Homo sapiens: one gene and its partners. The protein of the gene in region 2 purifies or fractionates together with the protein of the main gene of each other region. This does not show direct contact. Each region holds a gene or a part of one and is shown on either strand. Other genes may lie near its edges.

Evidence for each region.
Region 1: the proteins of NFAT5 (region 2) and STAM purify together in Homo sapiens (affinity purification with western blotting, with the first as the bait; one study listed by BioGRID). This does not show direct contact.
Region 3: the proteins of NFAT5 (region 2) and ATF1 purify together in Homo sapiens (co-immunoprecipitation; one large-scale study listed by IntAct). This does not show direct contact.
Region 4: the proteins of NFAT5 (region 2) and HLTF purify together in Homo sapiens (affinity purification with western blotting, with the first as the bait; one study listed by BioGRID). This does not show direct contact.
Region 5: the proteins of NFAT5 (region 2) and WDR48 purify together in Homo sapiens (affinity purification with western blotting, with the first as the bait; one study listed by BioGRID). This does not show direct contact.
Region 6: the proteins of NFAT5 (region 2) and STAM2 purify together in Homo sapiens (affinity purification with western blotting, with the first as the bait; one study listed by BioGRID). This does not show direct contact.

Annotation. Positions count from the first base shown.
Region 1 is NC_000010.11:17,703,151-17,706,650, forward strand, and holds part of STAM (signal transducing adapter molecule 1), read left to right. Parts: intron 1-1,280; coding exon 1,281-1,368; intron 1,369-1,819; coding exon 1,820-1,874; intron 1,875-2,437; coding exon 2,438-2,591; intron 2,592-3,500. UniProt on the Homo sapiens protein: Involved in intracellular signal transduction mediated by cytokines and growth factors. Upon IL-2 and GM-CSL stimulation, it plays a role in signaling leading to DNA synthesis and MYC induction. May also play a role in T-cell development.
Region 2 is NC_000016.10:69,687,966-69,691,465, reverse strand, and holds part of NFAT5 (nuclear factor of activated T-cells 5), read right to left. Parts: intron 527-3,500; coding exon 378-526; intron 1-377. UniProt on the Homo sapiens protein: Transcription factor involved, among others, in the transcriptional regulation of osmoprotective and inflammatory genes. Binds the DNA consensus sequence 5'-[ACT][AG]TGGAAA[CAT]A[TA][ATC][CA][ATG][GT][GAC][CG][CT]-3'.
Region 3 is NC_000012.12:50,816,101-50,818,881, forward strand, and holds part of ATF1 (cyclic AMP-dependent transcription factor ATF-1), read left to right. Parts: intron 1-2,781.
Region 4 is NC_000003.12:149,073,034-149,076,533, reverse strand, and holds part of HLTF (helicase-like transcription factor), read left to right. Parts: intron 1-486; coding exon 487-653; intron 654-2,185; coding exon 2,186-2,319; intron 2,320-3,211; coding exon 3,212-3,309; intron 3,310-3,500. UniProt on the Homo sapiens protein: Has both helicase and E3 ubiquitin ligase activities. Possesses intrinsic ATP-dependent nucleosome-remodeling activity; This activity may be required for transcriptional activation or repression of specific target promoters.
Region 5 is NC_000003.12:39,055,016-39,058,515, forward strand, and holds part of WDR48 (WD repeat-containing protein 48), read left to right. Parts: intron 1-3,500. UniProt on the Homo sapiens protein: Regulator of deubiquitinating complexes, which acts as a strong activator of USP1, USP12 and USP46. Enhances the USP1-mediated deubiquitination of FANCD2; USP1 being almost inactive by itself.
Region 6 is NC_000002.12:152,144,764-152,148,263, reverse strand, and holds part of STAM2 (signal transducing adapter molecule 2), read left to right. Parts: coding exon 1-39; intron 40-141; coding exon 142-240; intron 241-955; coding exon 956-1,102; intron 1,103-3,306; coding exon 3,307-3,376; intron 3,377-3,500.

The DNA of each region.
Region 1 (3,500 bases), on a different chromosome or scaffold from region 2:
GAAACCATCTGTGTGTTAATGGACTCTCACTTTCATTTGACCTTTTTTTGTGTGTGGTAGGCAAACTTTCTTGACATGTGCTTTTGTTTTTTAAGACTGCTTAAAATGAAAATTGTGAATAATTTACATTGAAAATTGGTATCCATTTCAAAAAAACAGAATTATTTTGACTTGGGAAGAGTTTTTTTTTTTTTTAGCATACTTATGTCACTTTCACTCTCTGATGATTAATTCGTTTCTCAAGCTATTTTCCTTTTACACAGAACATAGTTTTTAAATTTTAAATAATTACTTTGCTTAGGATTAGTAGTCTTTATTTGCCCTGCGTACCTATATATAGTAGCATAACCATGTAAAAACCATGCATGGAGAAAGGTTTGTAATTATTTTAGTAGTGGTCATGGTAAAGTAGATCTGTTTGGATTTTTTAAAAAACATAAATACATATATACTTATATATCGTATAGATGTGTGTATGTAATAATGGTTTCATTCATTCCATTGGTCTGTACAACAAAAGATTCTGAAATAGATCTGTGTCACTGGTTTGAGGTACCTTCCAGCCTCTCCCAAATAGGAAAATAGAGAAACCACTAGTCTTCCTCCTTCCTTTTATGACCAACTGAAACACTGGTAGAAAGAAAATGTGGAATAAACCCTAAGAGTCCCACTTAGAAGAGCAGCTGTGATACAGCTGAGCTCTGCCTTACTGAAACAGCTGCTGTATTCACCATGGGCAAGTAGGAATGACAAGTTGTTAGTCATAAGCAATGCCATCTTGAGATGGATAGTACACTTGTTGGCATGGCTAAGCTAAAGCTGCTCCGAAACAAAGCAAAATCCTCTGGCATGACATAAGAGGTGGAAGAACTCACGCATTGTAAGTTTAAATGTGGCTTGATTTCTTCTCGCTTAAGAGAATCTCTGTTAGCAGTTGGTTGGTTGGTTTATTTATTTATTTAAACAGGGTCTTGCACTGTTGTCCAGACTGAAGTGCAGTGGCGAGATCATAGCTCACTGCAGCCTTGACCTCCTGGGCTCAAGTGATTCTCCCACCTCAGCCTCCTGAGCAGTTTCAAAAATATATAGGAAGTACTTTCAAGGCTCTGACTTCATGCAGTACTAGAGAGAATAAATACATGGGACACTGACAACATAAAAGCAAAATTGGAGTCTCCATAACTATGAATTTCAAAAGTTTGTCTAGTTGATAATAAAGTGAAAACATAAAGTTGCCTAAAGGTTGGTAGCTTTTTATATTAACTACTTAATTCCTGTAGGATAAAATGGACCAGTTGCTACAGATGCTGCAAAGTACAGACCCCAGTGATGATCAGCCAGACCTACCAGAGCTGCTTCATCTTGAAGGTAAAACTTTTCTATTTACCTTGCAAATAAAGAGTAGTTAGAGGTTAATAACTGGTGTCCTGTTAAAGAATGGGTTTTGAGGATAATATTAAAAATGGAACATTTCTCACTTCTCCTTGACCCAGGCTCACTCTCATATGCAGTTGAAACCTTGGGTAGAATTTGAATTCTTATAATTTTCTATCCAAACGAAGTGTTCTGTTCAACATTTTAGAACCTGGTAAAATGAAAAATGGCACTTTAAGATTTTCAGATTAATATTTTAGATTAAGTTGTCACCATTATACTTTAAGAAAATCAATTTTGGGTTCTGTAGACTAAGGTTAAAGAATGTATATTTTTATTACTCCAAATTAAATCTTTTATTCCTTAAATTATACAAATATCTATCAAAGGTTCACATTTTTTTTTCTTGTACTTTCTTATATTTCTTCACATCTTGTCATTTTAGCAATGTGTCACCAGATGGGACCTCTCATTGATGAAAAGCTGGAAGATATTGATAGGTAAAAGAACATGGGTGCATTTATGTTGTGTACCTTCTTTCCTGAAGCTATCACTGTACTGCAAAGTGGGCTATAACTGCCTTTTAAAAAAAAAATATTGTGGAGGAACCAACTCTCATTCACATATCTTGTGCTAGATGTGGAGAATTAGACTCATTTGTCCTTTTTTTTAAAGTGAGGATTTGATCGACCTTTGCAATATAGTCAAAAGGACCAGCGTAGATAGGTCGTTTTAAAAACAAGGGCTAGCTATGTAATTCTCTTTGCTGAAGTGGCATTACCAGAGCTCACAAATGACCCATATGTTAGTAACTAGGGAAACCAAGATATTTCTGGTACAGTCAGGTACGATAAGACGGAGTTCCCTTAGCACAGCACGTAAACCTTAAACAGTTTGGGTTGCTTCAGGGCTAAAATGCAGGATATTTTTGTTATAAGTGAAATTTTTAATAATGTCTACTAGTACTACTTTTTGCCATTTTTGATATTTTGATGTATCATTATTTAGAGCATTATATCATTTTAGTAACAGCTATGCTTCAAATTATTGTGTCATGTTTCAGAAAACATTCAGAACTCTCAGAACTTAATGTGAAAGTGATGGAGGCCCTTTCCTTATATACCAAGTTAATGAACGAAGATCCGATGTATTCCATGTATGCAAAGTTACAGAATCAGCCATATTATATGCAGTCATCTGGTGTTTCTGGTTCTCAGGTAAGCTTTTAGAAGCCCATGTTGTTTTAAATTCTCAAATGCACAGTGAGGTGTGGTAGCTCATGCCTGTAATCTCAGCAATTTGGGAGGCCAAGGCAAGAGGATTGCTTGAGACCAGGAGTTTAAGACCAGCCTGGGTAACATAGTGAGACTCTGTCTCTACCAAAAAAAAAAAAAAAAATTAGCCAGGCTGGGGCATGTTCCTTGGTCCCTGCTCTCGAAAAGCTGAGGTGGGAGGATAGCTTGAGCCCAGAAGGTCGAGGCTGCAGTGAGCCGTGTTCACACCACTGCAGTCTAGCCTGGGCAACAGCGACACCCTGTCTCTAAAATAAATAAATAAATAAATAAATTCTCAAATGCATTTGAGATTATTTGGAATAGCTGTTTGAAACTTTCTAAAACTAATGTTTAAAATTAAAATAAAGTTTAACGGAATTTTTTTACTTGGCAGTTACAGCATATAATATACTAATTATGCTAATAGTTTTTTGTTGTTGTTGTTGTTTAAAGGAAATAGCTTTTATACAGGGTTATGCAGCAGAATCAGCCATCACACTTTTGAAAAAAATTACAGATATATCCATCCCACTCCAGACCTATTGAATCAGAATCCTCAGGGTTGAGGCCCTTTTTTTTTTTTTTTTTTTTTTTTTTTGAGGCGGAGTCTCACTCCGTGGCCCAGGCTGGAGTGCAGTGCTGCAATCTCAGCTCACTGCAAGCTCCGCCTTCCGGGTTCTCGCCATTCTCCTGCCTCAGCCTCCTGAGTAGCTGGGACTACAGGCGCCCGTCACCACGCCAGGCTAATTTTTTTGTATTTTTAGTAGAGACGGGGTTTCGCCGTGTTAGCCAGGTTGGCCTTGATCTCCTGACCTCGTGATCCACCCGCCTCGGCCTCCCAAAGTGCTGGGA
Region 2 (3,500 bases):
CAGTAATTTTATGGTTCATGAAGAGCAGGTATCAAAATATCTCAATTTTGTGGCTCCTCAGTAACATTACAGGGGATAAGACAAGTAAAAAAAAGAAACAGAAAGTTATGGGAAAAGACTGGGAAAAAAATAAAAACATCTCTAATTCTGAAAATGCTAAAATTAGTACTTTCATCAATATCTCATACAACATATTAATTCCTCCCTTGTATATTGGAAGTCACTATGTGGGCAATTTTGCTGAAGTATAAAGCATTCCCTCTTTACAGCAAAATTCATTAAGTGCATCCAAAGTAAAAATAATGTTAAAAAAATAGGAAAAGTAAAAGACAGCAATTTTTATATAGGAGGTTTGTGCACTAGTCAATACAGCTTACCTTAAAAATAGTGGAAGATCTTTTTTCTGCTGTTACTTCCATTGGAGTAACATCTTCACTCTTAATCATACTGCTTGGTATGAGTGGAGTCATCAGGGCATTAGGGATAATATTTACCTTATCTAAATTACATCCAGTAGTTTTCATTGCTGCATATACACACACACAAAAAGAAAAGTTTAAAATCACAAAATTTACCAACTATTTCATTCTAAAATTTGTTATTAGCCATGATTTAAATGTCTATTTTTTTGATGCTACAATGGTAGCATGAGATACAAACCTGGTATATTAAGATATATCTTCCCTTTTATGAAGTGCATTGGCTGGGGGACCTCTGGAATGGGCCTGGAACTATAGCTTAAATATTAATAATAAGCTTAAGCAGTTCAATTACCAAGCTATATTCCCCAAGACGGTTCCAAGTGCCTTGAATCATACTACCCAACCTGACCAAGAGTATATTATAGGATACAGCTTAAAAATCTCCAGGAGGATAAAGCTACTCAATTACAAACTACACTCTCCTCTTAGCATTTAGCTATCTGACAATATAGTCTCAGAACTTCTTAAGGACTATGAGATTGTCAGAGCACTTCTTTCTTAAACTAAGTTCAAGCTTCTCATTAGAAAATACCACCCAGTGATTAATAAATTTTGCTTTTCTAAATTAAAAGAAAACTAAATTAATTAGAAAACTTGAATATGACAAGTTGACACATGGACACAATTCTCTTTTAGACTGGACTTTAAACATCTTTTTTTTTTTCCCCAGAAATAAGGGCTATTTTAGGTTTACAAACCAAATTTCCCAAGCAAAATGAAAAATTATTTCCCACCTCCTACTACCTCCATTTTCAGGAGTAGTTAGTTCTAGATTTATACCTAGAGGCAACATATAGCAAGATTCTACCACTTCACTATATCTACCTTTCCCCCTTGATTGCTTTTCTTTCTTCTTTTTTGTCTACTTGAGTCCGCAGTGGCACTCAGTGGTACCTACTGCTATTGCTAATGACAGTCTTCTGAGTTGAGCACATAGCCAAATCCTGATTTAAAAGTTTACTACCACTTGGAAGCTCTATGGAAACAGTCTTCAGAAAGCATAGCTGTTAAATTTCTTAATTTGATATCGAGAAGAAATCTTGGCTATAAAGAAGCTTTTAAAATGGCACATGGTCTATAAGTTGGATCGCTCCCTTCATAAATTTTTGTTGTTGTTGTCAGTCAATATGCTGCTGAAAGGCCAAGTGTGGTGGCTCATGCCTGCAATCCCAGCACTTTGGGAGGCCGAGGCAGGTGGCTCACTTGAGGCCAGCAGTTCGAGACCAGCCTGGCCAACATGGTGAAACTCTGTCTCTACTAAAAATACAAAAATTAGCAGGGCATGGTGGCACATGCCTGTAAATCCCAGCTACTTGGGAGGCTGAGGCACAAGAATTGCTTGAATCCAGGAGGAGGTGGTTGCAATGAGCTGAGATCGCTCTACTGTACTGCAGGCTGGGCAACGGAGCAAGACTGTCTCAAAATCTGCTGAAAGTAAATATTTTCATCTAAAAATATTTGCAATTTTCTTGTCTTACTTCAACTTGCCTCACAGCCATTTGGCTAAAAACCTAATTCCTATGAAAACTGATTATTTTGACAGAGGGGAAAGTGCTCATTTAACTTTTGACATTCCATGTTTTATTATTCTACCTAAGTAGTTTGAGAAATGAATCATTTATTCATGAGTTCTTTGGACCTATTTTCACCTAAATTCTAATACCAATACAATTCCCCTAACAACCAGATTTTTATTTTATTTTATCTTATTTGAGACAGGGTCTCTCTCTGTTGGTGGGAGTGCAGTGGTACAATCAGGCCTCACTGCAACCTCCACCTCCTGGGCTCAGGCAATCCTCCCACCTCAGCCCCATAAGTAGCTGGGACTACAGGCACACACCACCATGCCTGACTAATTTTTAAAATTTTTTTGTAGAGACAAGAGTCTCGTTACTTTGCCTAGGCTGGTCTTGAACTCCTGAGCTCAAGTGATCCTCCCTACTAGGCTGCCCAAAGTGCTGGGATTATAGGCGTGAGCCACCACACTCGGCCTACAACCTAATTTTGACTGAGACAAAACTTCAGATCATGCACAGGGCAGGCATTTAAAAGTAATCTAAGAATATCCCATAGAACATTTTGAAAAACCATTAGTGTTATCTTAAGTTGATCCTGTAATAGTCAACTACTATTCTTGCTTTTGAATTCCATTAGATCATGAGCTCTGTGAAGGCAGATGTTGTTATCACCTGTTGCACAGTAGGTAATCAACAAATGTTTGCTGAATGAATGAAGAAAATAATCTTACTTTAGCTTTATCACTGTCAATTTAGTTTGTTGTGGATTGTTTGGTTAATCCTATAAAAATAAAAATATGGGCCAGGCGCATTGGCTCATGCCTGTAATCCCAGCAATTTGGGAGGCAGAGGTGGGTGGACCACGAGGTCAGGAGTTCGCCAGCCTGACCAACATGGTGAAACCCCGTCTCTACTAAAAATACAAAAAAAGTAAAAATAAAAAAAAGCCAGGTGTGGTAGAGGGCACCTGTTACCTCAGCCTCTGGAACCCAGGAGGCAGAGGTCAGAGGTTGCAGTAAGCCGAGACCACGCCACTGCATTCCAGCCTGGGCAACAAAGCAAGACTCCATCTCAAATAATAATAATAATAAATAAAAATAAAAATATACAGTCTGTATTTTTCTTTTTAAAAATATTCATTCATTCATTCATTCATTTACTCACTCATTCATTCAATTAGAGACAGGGTCTCACTCTGTTACCCAGGCTGGAGTGAGTACCTGCAGCCTCAAACTCCTGGTTTTTTTTTTTTTTTTTTTTTTTTGAGACGGAGTCTCGCTCTGTCGCCCAGGCGGGACTGCGGACTGCAGTGGCGCAATCTCGGCTCACTGCAAGCTCCGCTTCCCGGGTTCACGCCATTCTCCTGCCTCAGCCTCCCGAGTAGCTGGGACTACAGGCGCCCGCCACCGCGCCCGGCTAATTTTTTTTGTATTTTTAGTAGAGACGGGGTTTCACCTTGTTAGCCAGGATGGTCTCGATCTCCTGACCTCATGATCCACCC
Region 3 (2,781 bases), on a different chromosome or scaffold from region 2:
GAGGCGGGAGGATCACTTGAGCCTAGGAGTTCAATGCAAGCCTGGGCAACATACCCATTGCTACAAAAGATAAAAAATTAGCCAGGCATGGTGGCGTGTGCCTAAAATCCCAGCTACTCGGGAGGCTGAGGTGGGAGGATTGCTTGAGCCCAGGGGGTTGAGGCAGCATGATCGCACCACTGCACTTCAGCCTGGGCAACAGAGCAAGACCCTATCTCAAGAAAAAAGAGAGAATGGAAAAATAGGTAACAGAGACTGGGAACGGTGAGGGGCAAGGAGGAGGATGAAGAGAGTTAAAGGGTACAAACCCATACACAGTAAGATAAAAGGAATAAATTCAGTGTTTCATAGCAGAGTAGGATGACCACCCTTAACAAAAACCTATTAATACTCAGGTGATGGACACCCTGAATCCCCTGACTTGATCGCTACACATTATATACATGTAACAGATTTTCTCATGTGCTCCATAAATATGCACAGAAACATTTTAATGGAAAAAACCATACAGGCCAGGCGTGGTGGCTCACACGTGTAATCCCAGCATTTTCGGAGGCCAAGGCAGGAGGATCACTTGAGCCCAGGAGTTTGAGACCAGCCTGGGCAATATAGGGAGACCCCATCTCTAAAAAAAATTTAAAACATTAGCTAGATGTGGTAGAGGCAGGAGAATCACTTGAACCTGGAGGCAGAGGTTGCAGTGAGCCATGATCACGCCATTGTACTTCAGCCTGGGCAACAGAGCAAGACTCTTGTCTCAAAAATAAAACAAACAAAAAAAAACACACAAGTAGTTAATAATCATATAAAAGACTACTCAGCCTTATTAGTAATCAAAGAAATACACATTAATGCTACACATTTAGATACCCTTTATACCCACCCAATTGGCAAAAATTTTAAAGTCTAACCAAGAGTTGGCAAGGATTTGGAACAATGGTCAGGAATTCATAGATACTACTATAGGAGTGTAAATTGATGCAGCCATTTTGGAAATTAGGCCTTATCTTGTACAGTTGACGTGGGTATACTCTGTGACCCAGCTGTTTTAGTCTGTGTGACTGAGAGGAACTTGGAGGAAGTATGTATAAGAATTTTCATAGCAGCAAAAAATCAGGAAACAACCTCAAGATTCATTGATAACAGAATAGGTACATATTGAGCCTAAACATAAAAATGGGGGGAAAAAAGAATAGGTACATAAATTGTGACTGTATTTATAGAATGGAATGTTTATTTGTAATGACTGAATGAATAATCATTTCAACATGAATAAATCTTAGAAAAATTGAATGAAAAAACAAGTTGCAACAGAATACACAAAGTATGATATTTTATAATTTTAGAAAATAAATGATAGCAGTTTTAGGGTCATATACGTATATACTACAACTATAAAAATAAGAAATGAGATGTCACGTAGCAAAAATTATAAAGTGGTAATACTGTCTGTCATTGGGCATATAAGGAAAAGGGTACCTCACATACATTACTGAGGGAAGTACGGAGTTTTATGGTATCTACTTGCCCCAACATTTCTACTTGTATGTGACAAAAGATACCATAAAGAAACTTAAAAATAAGTCTGTTAACTGGGAAAAATATTTGCAACTTTTATATAAAGAGAAAGAATTACGAGATGTATAGGTTATATAAAGATTTATTTCTGTAAATAAGAGACCTAACAGAAGGAAACCGGTCTGTGAAAGATGGCCTTGTAAACATGAAATTATTCCAAACTTTGTGCATAATGAGGGAAATGTTAAAGCAGTGAGGTTCGCTTTTTGTCAGCCGCTAGACTGACAACCATTTTAAAATGTTCATAACAGGCACTCTCATGTACTGCCCCTGGGAATGTAAATGGTACAAATACTCTGGAGGACATTCTGGCATTTTTTCCCTTTTTTCTTTCTGGTTTGACTCTGGGATTTTTTTCCTTCCTTTTTTCCCCCCTTATTTCTCTGTACTTCAATGAATATAAATTGGCACTATCTCTTGACTTTAAGTGAATATAGCTTGTGATCCTTCAAGAAATACATGTGTAGAAATACACGTAAAGAATGGAGGCTGAGTGGGTGGCTCATGCCCATAATCCCGACACCGTGACCAGGAGTGAGACCAGCCTAGGCAACATACTGAGACCTCATCTCTACAAAAATAAAATTAGCTGGTGTGGTGGTGTACACCTGTAGTCCCAGCTACTTGAGAGGCTGAAGTGGGGATATCTTGAGTCCAGGAGGTCAAGGTTGCAATGAGCTGTGATTGTGCCACTGCACTCAGCCTGGTTGACAGAGTGAGACCCTGTCTCAAAACAAAAGAAGAAAAAAGAAAAAGAATGTTTACTGGAAACCACTTAAAACAAACAAACAAACAGAGCTTAAAGGTAAAAATAAAGTCTTTTTGTGAGGGGAAAGATTTTGTACAGTCCTTTTAAAGATGTGTACTAAAAAGCAAGTTGCAAATAGTATCTACATATATAGCATAAAAATCTTAAAATAGTACTGTTTCTTTCTTTCTTTCTTTTTCTGAGACAGAGTCTTGCTCTGTTGCCCAGGGTGGAGTGCAGTGGCGCGATCTTGGCTCACTGCAACCTCCACCTCCCAGCTTCAAGTGATCCTCCTGGGTCAGACTCCCAAGTAGCTGGGATTACAGGCATGTGCCACCACAGCTAATTTTTGTATTTTTAGTAGAGATGAGGTTTTGCCATGTTGGCCAGGCTGGTCTCGAACTCCTGACCTCAGGTGATCTGCCCGCCTTGGCCTCTTAAAGTGCTGGGATTAC
Region 4 (3,500 bases), on a different chromosome or scaffold from region 2:
CTCTGCTACCTTTTAGCTTTGTGACCTTGGGCAAGTTACTTTTCTGTGCTTCAGTTTCTTCATTTGTAAAATGGGAATAATGATAGTACCTCCCAATAGAGCTGTGAGGATTTAAAAAGTCAGTCTGTGCAATGTACTTAGACCAATGCTTGGCACATAGTAAGCGCTCAATAAGGGTTGGCTATTTTTCAGAAGTTATGATGTTGAAAATTTTAGATAATTTGAATTTGCTAGTTTACATTTGACTATTTTTTAAGACATTAAGGATTTGTTAACTTCCTAATGAATATAGATTAGAAAAATAATATTAAGGAGTCATAATAATATATATTAATATTTCTGTAGTTTGTGTCTAGAAAATATATTTTTCTTATGTGCAGTGTTTAGCAGTAGCATTAAAAAATGAATGGAAATCCCAGATAAAGTATAACAAAGTTATTGTCTATTATTTATAATGTAATATTATCTGTTTATCATTTTTATTAGGTTAATAATAATGAAATGGTTGCATTACAACGAGATCCTAATAACCCTTATGATAAGAATGCAATTAAAGTAAACAATGTGAATGGAAATCAAGTTGGCCATTTAAAGAAAGAGCTTGCAGGTGCTTTGGCCTATATCATGGACAACAAATTGGCACAAATTGAAGGGTAATGTACTTTCAGAATTTAGTTTTAATAATTGTGAATTATAGTCATCTTTGAACTTGTTAGGGCTTCTTGTTAGAGCCTATAAAGGTATGCTAACAATTTCTATCACTGTACTTTTGGTACGTGTTAAATAAATGTTTTATTTCTCCTTTTACATACTTCTACTACCCCAGCCATCAAACAATTGTCCTCTCATTTTCCTATGGAATTATTACCATGGAGAAAATAGACCTTGGTTCAAATATTAGGAAGTACATTCCATTTCTCCAAACCTTTTGGTACCTAGGTTTAGGAATTTGGAAGTGTTTATTTGTTTATTTATTTATTTATTTATTTTGAGACGAAGTCTCACTCTGTTGCCCAGGCTGCAGTGCAGTTGTGTGATCTCGGCTGACTGCAACCTCCGCCTCCAGGGTTCAAGCAACTCTCCCTGCCTTAGCCTCCTGAGTAGCTACAGGTGCCTGCCACCATGCCCAATTAATTTTTGTATTTTTTAGTAGAGACAGAGATTTGCCATGTTGGCCAGGCTGTCTCGAACTCCTGACCTCAGGTGATCTGCCCGCCTCGGCCTCCCAAAATGCTGGGATTACAGGCGTGAGCCACCGTGCCCAGCCTGGAAGTGTTTGTTTATATCAGAGGTTATAAACTGGTATTCTGTGATATGATGTAGGTGAATTTCATTTTGCCCTGCAGTGTTTTAGACATTTTTTCGTTCAGTACTAATTATTGAAATAGCTAAGTCCGCATTTTATACATATTAATTTATTTTCTTAAATACAAAAAACTTATTTTTCTCTTGACAAGTGGGAAATCTGGCAATGCAGGATGAGTTGTCACTTCCATATGACAATAGTTGACTGGAACTCTCCCTTTAGCTAGGGCATATGCTCTCCCAGTTTTATCACCTGTTTCTTTTTTCTTTTTCTAAACTCTTTCAATCTTTCAGTTACCTTTTCTCTTTTAGGCATTTGTACTTGTGATCTCAATTTAAGTATCTGGAATATTTAGGATCTTGATATTCTAATTCTAATTTTTAGGATATTCATATAATCCTAGGTGAGTTTGAAGAGAAAATAAATGCTCATAATGTCTCACTTTGTTTTCTCCTTTTTCAGTTTATCAGGTTTTTCAGTTATTGAGAATAACTTAGTGAATCACAAGTTCTTGCATTTCCCATTTTCCAAGCAGAATGAGTTACTACCCTCAGTGGTTCCGTTAGCCAAACTCTACCCTTTGATTTAACTTATTTTACTTATATTACAATCTTGTTTACAGGCCATCCTTGCATTTTTAAAACTGCTTTATTCCATTTTCTCAATTTTTTCTGGCACTCTGTTTCTAAAAATCACCCTTCTGATTGTTTATGGTTCTATTTCTTTTCCTTTTTTTCTTTCAAGTCTGCCCAACTAGTTCCTTATTACTTTACTTCAATGTAAAATGTAAATGATACACTTAAAATATTGAACTAATTCTTAGTGGGGATAAAAAGTAATGCTTCTGATTTCCCTTTCTTTTTCTCCCAAATATAATAGGGTAGTTCCTTTTGGTGCAAACAATGCTTTTACCATGCCTCTGCATATGACTTTTTGGGGAAAAGAAGAAAATAGAAAAGCGGTTTCAGATCAGTTGAAGAAACATGGATTTAAATTGGGTCCTGCACCAAAAAGTAAGTTTAGGGTTTCACTTAATATTATTCTGATATTGTAAGATGCAGGGATTATGAAACATTTATTCTCTCTTGGAGTTTGTTGGCTAATTTGTGCTCAAGGCTCCAAGGTACAACTTTTTTTCAGGAGTCTTTTTGAGGAAATCTCTGATTTTTCCTTTTGCCTCTATTGAAATAGATTCACACATAAAAATATACACAGTAAGAGTGAGGGGATATTAAAAAAATTAAAGAAAAAGTATATATGCAATGAAGTCTCATATATACCCTCCCCTAATTTTCCCTAATGGTAACATCTGGAAACCCCTGACTTTAAACATTCTTTTTGATAAATTTTAGGCAAAAATAATCTTCTGATAGCGAATGAAAAGGATTGCTTGGCAAGAGTTTGTTCAAATAATGTGGAATTACTTGTTTTTTTAGTGATTTAGTATTTAGCTTTTAAAATACCTCTAAAATACAAGGCTTTTAATGCAGTTTGTTATGCACGTTTTATTTATTTATTTGTGTATATATTTTGAGACAGAGTCTTGCTCTGTCACCCAGGCTAGAGTACAGTGGCCACGATCAGTGGCTGAGTGCAACCTTGACCTCCTGGGCTCCAGCAGTCCTTCCACCTGAGCCTCCTGAGTAGCTGGGACTACAGGCGCACACCATCACGCTCTGCTAATTTTTGTATTTTTTGTAGAGACAGAATCTCACCATGTTGCCCAGGCTAGTCTCAAACTACTGGACTCAGGCAAACCACCTGCCTTGGCCTCCCAAAGTGCTTGGGTTACAGGCATGAGCCACAGCACCCAGCCCTGTTAATGCATATTTTAAAAGCTACTTAATAAAAGATAAAAACCTACTTTATTTGATGGCTTTATTCTTTTTATTTTGTAAATTATAGCTTTAGGATTCAATTTGGAAAGTGGTTGGGGCTCTGGAAGAGCTGGACCAAGCTATAGTATGCCAGTGCATGCTGCAGTACAGATGACAACTGAACAGGTGTGCTTCTCTTTTATTTTGTAATCTAAAAGTGAATTTTAAATGTTGCAGGTTTGTATTTAAAAGAACAGGATGAATATGTACGTGTGGGTATTTGTGGTCTTCAAATATATTAAGTTATAATGAAACATGTTATAGAATAAATAGAATATATATATGTTAACATTTTATATAAAAAGTACTGATAAGGA
Region 5 (3,500 bases), on a different chromosome or scaffold from region 2:
ACATTATTTGCTCTTATACATCAAAAAGAAAACTTCTCATCTTGGAAAAAGCATACATGGGTACTTGGAGTAAATATACTTTGTCTCCTGACTGTCTCAGACCACGAGACAGTAGCCCTGAGCTCCTTGTCAAGTTGTAGGCCAAGACAAACCCTTGAGACTTAAAAATATTGCTAAATAATCAGTGGAGGCCAGGCGTGGTGGCTCATGCCTGTAATCCCAGCACTTTGGGAGGCCAAGGTGGGCAGATCACTTGAGGTCAGGAGTTCGAGACCAGCCTGGCCAACATGGCGAAATCCCGTCTCTACTAAAAATATAAAAATTGCCGGCATGGTGGCGCATGCCTGTAATCCCAGGTACTTGGGAGGCTGAGACAGGGGAATCGCTTGAACCCAGGAGGCGGAGGTTGCAGTGGGCCGAGATTGTACCAGTGCACTCCAGCCTGGGTGACAGAGCGAGACTCCATCTCAAAAATAAAATAAAATGATACTTAAAATCAGTGGAGAGGGGTCCAAACATACTGCATATTAATTGTAGACATAATTTTAAATGAGTCCATGTCCTACCATCTTCAACTTCTAGGAAAACTAGAGATACGAGGGAAGAGGGATGGATTTGTGACTGTCAGAAACATAATCAAATATGTGAATTCAGATACATGATGTAGCATTTTCTCTGGTAACCAGGATATCAAAGCAAGTCTTTTCCATCCTTAGCAGTCCCTTGGTGGTATGATTTTCCAGCAACCTGAGTCTGTTGATTGGCTCTCTGTGCCTCCATTTTTCCTCCTGTTATGGCCTCTTCCTTCAGTGCTTCACAGTGCTTGGGGAAAAAAAATACTTCGCTTAACTTGCTGCCACTTCTAGTTAAGCTCTTTCCCCAGCTAAATGCCAAGAGGACTTTTGTGCTCACTACCGTATCCTCAGCATTTAGAATAGTGCCAGGCAACAAGTGGGTGCCTAGTTAATATTCGTTGAAAGAATTAAATCCATTTTCCTCTATTTTTCTATAGCCAGACATTTTAAATTTTTTCTCTGTACTTTAATGGATGCAGATAACAAGTTTTTAAGGTGACATGTCTTGAAACATATCAGCATATATAGTTTTCGTTCTTTAATGACCACATAGAATGGATGTACCATAATTTGTCTAGCCATTTCCTTATTGAAGATATTGCTTTGATTTTTTTTCCATCATACTATAATTTGCTTTGAAAAAACCTCCAGTTATAAAATAGTAAAGGAAGTGTTACAAAAATAAATGAAAGGACAAAGATAGATAATACAGAATGCATAAAAGATGAGGGATCAGTTTGAAAGTTCCAGTATCTGACTCATTTGAGTTCAAGAAAGAGCAAAGAAAACAGAGATGATGATTAATAATGGATACAAGAAAATTTCCCGGAGCTTAAGTGCCGCAAATTTCTAGATCGAAGGGGCTTTCTAAATGCACAGAAAAACTAATGATAGAAAAAACAAACAAGAAATGTCACAACACCAAGGAAAAAGAGAAAATCCTGAAAGCTTAGGGAAGGAGATGACGAGGGAGTGGAGGAAAGAATGAAAATAGGATCCCTTTAAAGCTGTATGAAACAGAATGGCATTGAAATCAGTGGCAACATTGGATGCTAGAGGAACTTACAGCAATGCTTTCAAGAGCTGAGAGAATTGCTAAATCAAGTGTAAATGTGGAGGAAAGACCTTTTCAGGCATGCAAGGACTAAGTTGCCAACCCATGTGCCTTTTCTTATATTACTTTCTTAAGGTATTGGGGATGTATTTCAGCAAAACTATGGAGTGAACAAAGAAAGAAGGAGGCATTAGAATTCAGGAAACAATGGCTGTAACCCAGAAAAGCAGTAAAGGAAAACACCAAAGGTGACAGCTGTGCCAGCAGATCTAGAGGGCAGTCAGCCTAGATTGTAATGAGAAGAAGGAGGGTTTGGAGGGGGAAGCCTTCTGAGAAAATAAAGGGGTGGGGGTGAGTTCTGTGGTACAGCAATTAAAATTGAAATTAAAGTGGAGAAAACCATTGAAGAAGGAAAAATTAAAACTCTAGGGAAAACAAAAAGCTCTTTGAGGAAGGAAATGTATTCATAATATAGTACTTAGTAGATAGCCTTACAGTCACAACAATATAGCACGGATTATTTGTTCAATTAAAAATAGGGATGTATCTATATTAGAAGAGTAGAGGGAGGAGATATTGAGGGTAGTTTCAGAACTACATCCTAATCTACAGTAGCATGAGTAAATCGATAATGTCTAAAATGGATGAGCCAAAAAGTTATAGGATAAGCACAATATTTAGAGAAATGCAGTTAACTATCCAGTAGCAACAACTGAGTTGCAATTAGTTACCTTTAGGGATGAAGACTAGGTGTGGGAGTCTTATCCAGACAGTAGAGAGACTGTTTTTCATTACAGTCATTACTATTTGATTTTCTAAATACAAGCAGGAATTACTTGGATAACAAATGATCAAATTTTAAAAACTAAGTAATACATGTTGTTTGTAAAACATTCAGAACACATGAAAGAGACATGAATGAGTGAAAAATCACCATAATCCCATCATTCAGAAATAACTGCTGGTTATTTTATTTTATTTTTATTTTTATTTTTTTGAGACATTGTCTCACTCTGTCTTAAGGCTGGAGTGCAGTGGCACCGTCATGGCTCACTGCAACCTCTGCTTCCTGGGTTCAAGTGATTCTCCTGCCTCAGCCTCCTGACTAGCTGGGACTACAGGTGCGCACCACCACACCCGTCTAATTTTTGTATTTTTAGTAGAGACGGGGTTTCACCATGTTGGCCAGGATGGTCTTGATCTCCTGACCTCGTGATCTGCCCGCCTTGGCCTCCCAAAGCTGGGATTACAGGCATGAGCCACTGCGCCTGGCCCCTGGTTATTTTTATATATGTATAGTCTTCAAAACTTGTGTATTTGTTCTGAAATATTTAATATTTTGAAACATTTTTATAATAATGACTATTGTACATTGTTGTGTTGGACCACACATATTTCACTAAAAATATATCATGGCTTTCCGCCCATGTTTATCAGTCTAGACCTCCATCAACTCTTTCTTATTCTTTAGAAACAGGGCTCTCATGCTGTTGCCCAGGTTGTAGTACAGTGGTGCCATCATAGCTCACTGCAGCCTCAAGCTCCTGGGCTCAAGCAGTCTTCCCACCTCAGCCTCCTAAAGCACAGAGATTACAGGCATGAGCCACCACACCTGGCCTACATCAACATTTTAAGTGATTGAATAGTGTTGTGTTTTACAGATGTGCGTGCTAGAATTTATCCAACTAGGATACTTCTAATTCTTTTGCATTTTAAAGCACACGTCTTTAGGAAATACCGTTGAAGAGGTTGGCCCAGACTGGTTTTAACAGTAATTACTTTCCACCTAGAATGAGAATTCTGACATTCAGGTTATTCTTTCACTCTTGCCTTAACCAGTCAGATAATCTCCCAGAAGTCTGGATATCAAG
Region 6 (3,500 bases), on a different chromosome or scaffold from region 2:
AATCATAAGGTTCCACATGTTGCTCTGCAAGCACTAACTGTGAGTACAAGGCATGTTATTATTTGACGCAAATTTTAAATGTGTTTTTAATTACAGTAAGTTAATATTTCAATATTCATATATTTTTATTTCAATTAATAGCTTCTTGGGGCTTGTGTGGCAAACTGTGGAAAGATATTTCATTTAGAAGTATGTTCCCGTGATTTTGCAACAGAAGTACGTGCTGTGATTAAAAATAAGGTAAATTTTAAAAACAGAAGAACTTTAAGTCATTAAAAAAATGTAGATTGTGTGTCATTATAACTATATGTGGCATTACTAAAGTATTATAAATGAAGTCATTTTTAGATCATTGAAATGAAATAAACTGTTCTGAAATTTGATTTTTTAATGTGTAGCACCAAAAACTATTCTCCCCAAAGTATATATACTGTAAATAATAGCAAATCCTTTTTGAGGGCTAGTAAGTAGTCATTACTTTAAGCATTTTACATATACTGTCTTGTTGAATGCTCTTAACTACCCTTGGAGCATTAGATTCTTGGAAGTTAGATTCCCTTATCATTCTTATTTTATAAATGCAAAAACTGAGACTTAGAAGTAACTTGTCCAAGGTCATGCAGCTGGTAACTGGAATAGCCATGATTTACATCCAGGTTTCTCTGGCTCCATTCTCCGAAACATGGAGGAAATAATCTCTGAATATAAAAGATCTGTTGTCATTATAGTAAGACTTAGGAATTGGTGTTAAAAACAGTCATTTTGTATGAAACAACTATATCACAACATGTAAATAGGCATCTATCAATTACTCAACTAGGCTAGAAATTTCAGGACTTTTGTTGATGTTCATATAATTAAAGAGAATTTTGATGGTAATTCTCCTTGTTAAATAATTTAAGTACTTATTTTAACCGTAGATTTTTGTTTATTTTCCTTTCCTTTTCCTTAAAAGGCACATCCTAAAGTATGTGAAAAACTGAAATCTTTAATGGTGGAGTGGTCAGAAGAATTTCAGAAGGACCCTCAGTTTAGTCTGATATCTGCAACTATTAAATCTATGAAAGAAGAAGGAATTACTTTTCCTCCAGCAGGTTCTCAGGTGAGAGATTTATTCAGACCCATGGTTGACCCTATAATATTTTGAAGGTATGTATGTTATGTAAAGACTAGGCAAGGTATGTCTAGATTATCATTTTCCACCTTTACTTCCCAAATGACTCTCTAGCATAGTGCCTTCCTTACGTTTAGTAGACATTCTAGTTTTTATGTGTATTTCTTCCACATATCAGAACCTTGTGAAGTTAATCAGACATAGTGTATTTAATGTTCCTCTAAGTCTACAGTCATGCAAAAGGCATAGGTATATGACATACCCCTTATATTCAAGAAATTTGTAGCAAATTTGAATGATAGCTTTATACATGTGAAAAATAACTAATTTAGATTGTAAGTGACAAATACAGGATGAGGGGAATAGACTGCATACTGTCTATCTTAATACCAAAGAGAGAAAGAGGTGACTACAGATTGGAATGGTGAAGAAGGTAAAGAGGTAGAATTTTGAGACTTGAATGTATTAATATTTTGTTAGAGAGAAGTGAAGAAGTCATATCAGGAGGTAAGTGAAATGAACAAATTCATGGAATTGAGAGGCTCAAGACTTGTTTGTTCAAGAGTGAATATGCCTAGAGTGAATGCTTCACATACAAGATGGATGGAAATGTAAGACTAGAAATTTATTTGCTGGGAGAAGGGATAGCTTTAGTAGAACTGGGGTGTGGAGGCAGGGATGTTGACTCATGGAGTGGGCTGGTTTTTTTAGGTCTAGGGGAGAAAAATACTATTCCTTGGGTTTTGCTCTCAGTACCTTATTCCTTCCCATTAATATTAAGATATGGGCTAGGGAAAGAGACGATGAGAAGTACTATATTTTCTTTTATTTTAAATCATAGATTAAAGAGAAAAAAAGATTTTTTTTTTTTTTTTTTTGAGATGGAGTTTTGCTCTTGTTGCCCAGGCTGGAGTGCAGTGGCACAACCTCAGCTCACTGCAATCTCTGTCTCCCGGGTTTAAGCAATTCTCCTGCCTCCGCCTTTAGAGTAGCTGGGATTGCAGGTGCCTACCACCATGCCCGGCTAATTTTTTGTATTTTTAGTAGAGACGGGGTTTCACCATGTTGACCAGGCTGGTCTCAAACTTCTGACCTCAGGTGATCCACCTGCCTCGACCTCTCAAAGTGCTGGGATTACAGGCATGAGCCACCACGCTGGCCGAAAAAAGATTCTTTATAGCTGACCAGACCTAAGGGTACAAGGTAACGTTTTGAGATAAGAGTCTTATAAGTAATAAAAAGGAAACATTTTCCTGTTCTGTCCTTTCTGCATATTTTTCTGAAAAATCTATGTAAAGAACCGGTTGATGGATCAGTCCTGGATACCTGTCTTACATGCTGTTTATTAAATTCAAGCATGACCTTCCTTACTTCTCTGCTATGTCTGGCAGACCACTGCCACCCAGCCACAATAACTAGTAAAAGGACTTCACACATATTCCTAGAACTGCACCTCTTGTCTCTGTCCCCATTCCTCTCTCTTCAGTGATGATCATGACTTCTTGCTGGCACTCCTCGTGTAGCTGTACTCCTATAGCAGAGCTCCTCTCACTAAGAGACCTTGGACAATTGAGATCGGGAATACAATCAGAAAAGAGTCTTTTTTAAATTCTATTAATATTTAAGTACTTTCTGTATGCCAAGTTCTGTGTTACATTTATGCAAAATCTAAGCCAGTTTGATCCCTGTGTGAGTTTATAATGTTTTCTTGAAAAATCTGATGTTTTATTTTAGTATTTGAAAACAATTATTTAAAATTATTATAAAGAACTTCACTTTTAGACCAGTGATGGTGGCTCATGCCTGTAATCTTAGCACTTTGGTAGGCTGAGACAGGAGAATCACTTGAGGCTAAGAGTTGCAGATCAGCCCAGGAAACATAGTGAGACCCTGTCTCTACAAAAAATAAAAATTAGCCGGTTGTGGATGCATACACCTCTAGTTCCGGCTTCCCAGGAGGCTGAGGCAAGAGGATCACTTGAGCCCAGGAGTTGGAGGTTACAGTGAGCTATGACTGTGCCATGCACTGCAACCTGGCTGACAGAATGAGACCCTGTCTCAAAAAAGAACTTCACTTTTAAATGAAACTCAGTTATATCAGTATTTTTTAAAATTTACCATCTGCAAGTAATTATGGAGCTTGTGTTTTGTTTGAAAAGATAGTTGTGTTCATTTTACTCATACATTTACAGACTGTCTCAGCTGCTGCCAAGAATGGTACGTCATCGAACAAAAACAAAGAGGATGAAGACATAGCTAAAGGTAAATGATCAAGCACATGTAATTTAGTGTTGCTTAAAATATCTTTGCCAGGGCTGGGCGCGGTGGCTCACGCCTGTAATCCCAGCACTTTGGGAGGCCGAAGTGGGCAGATCATGAGGTCAAG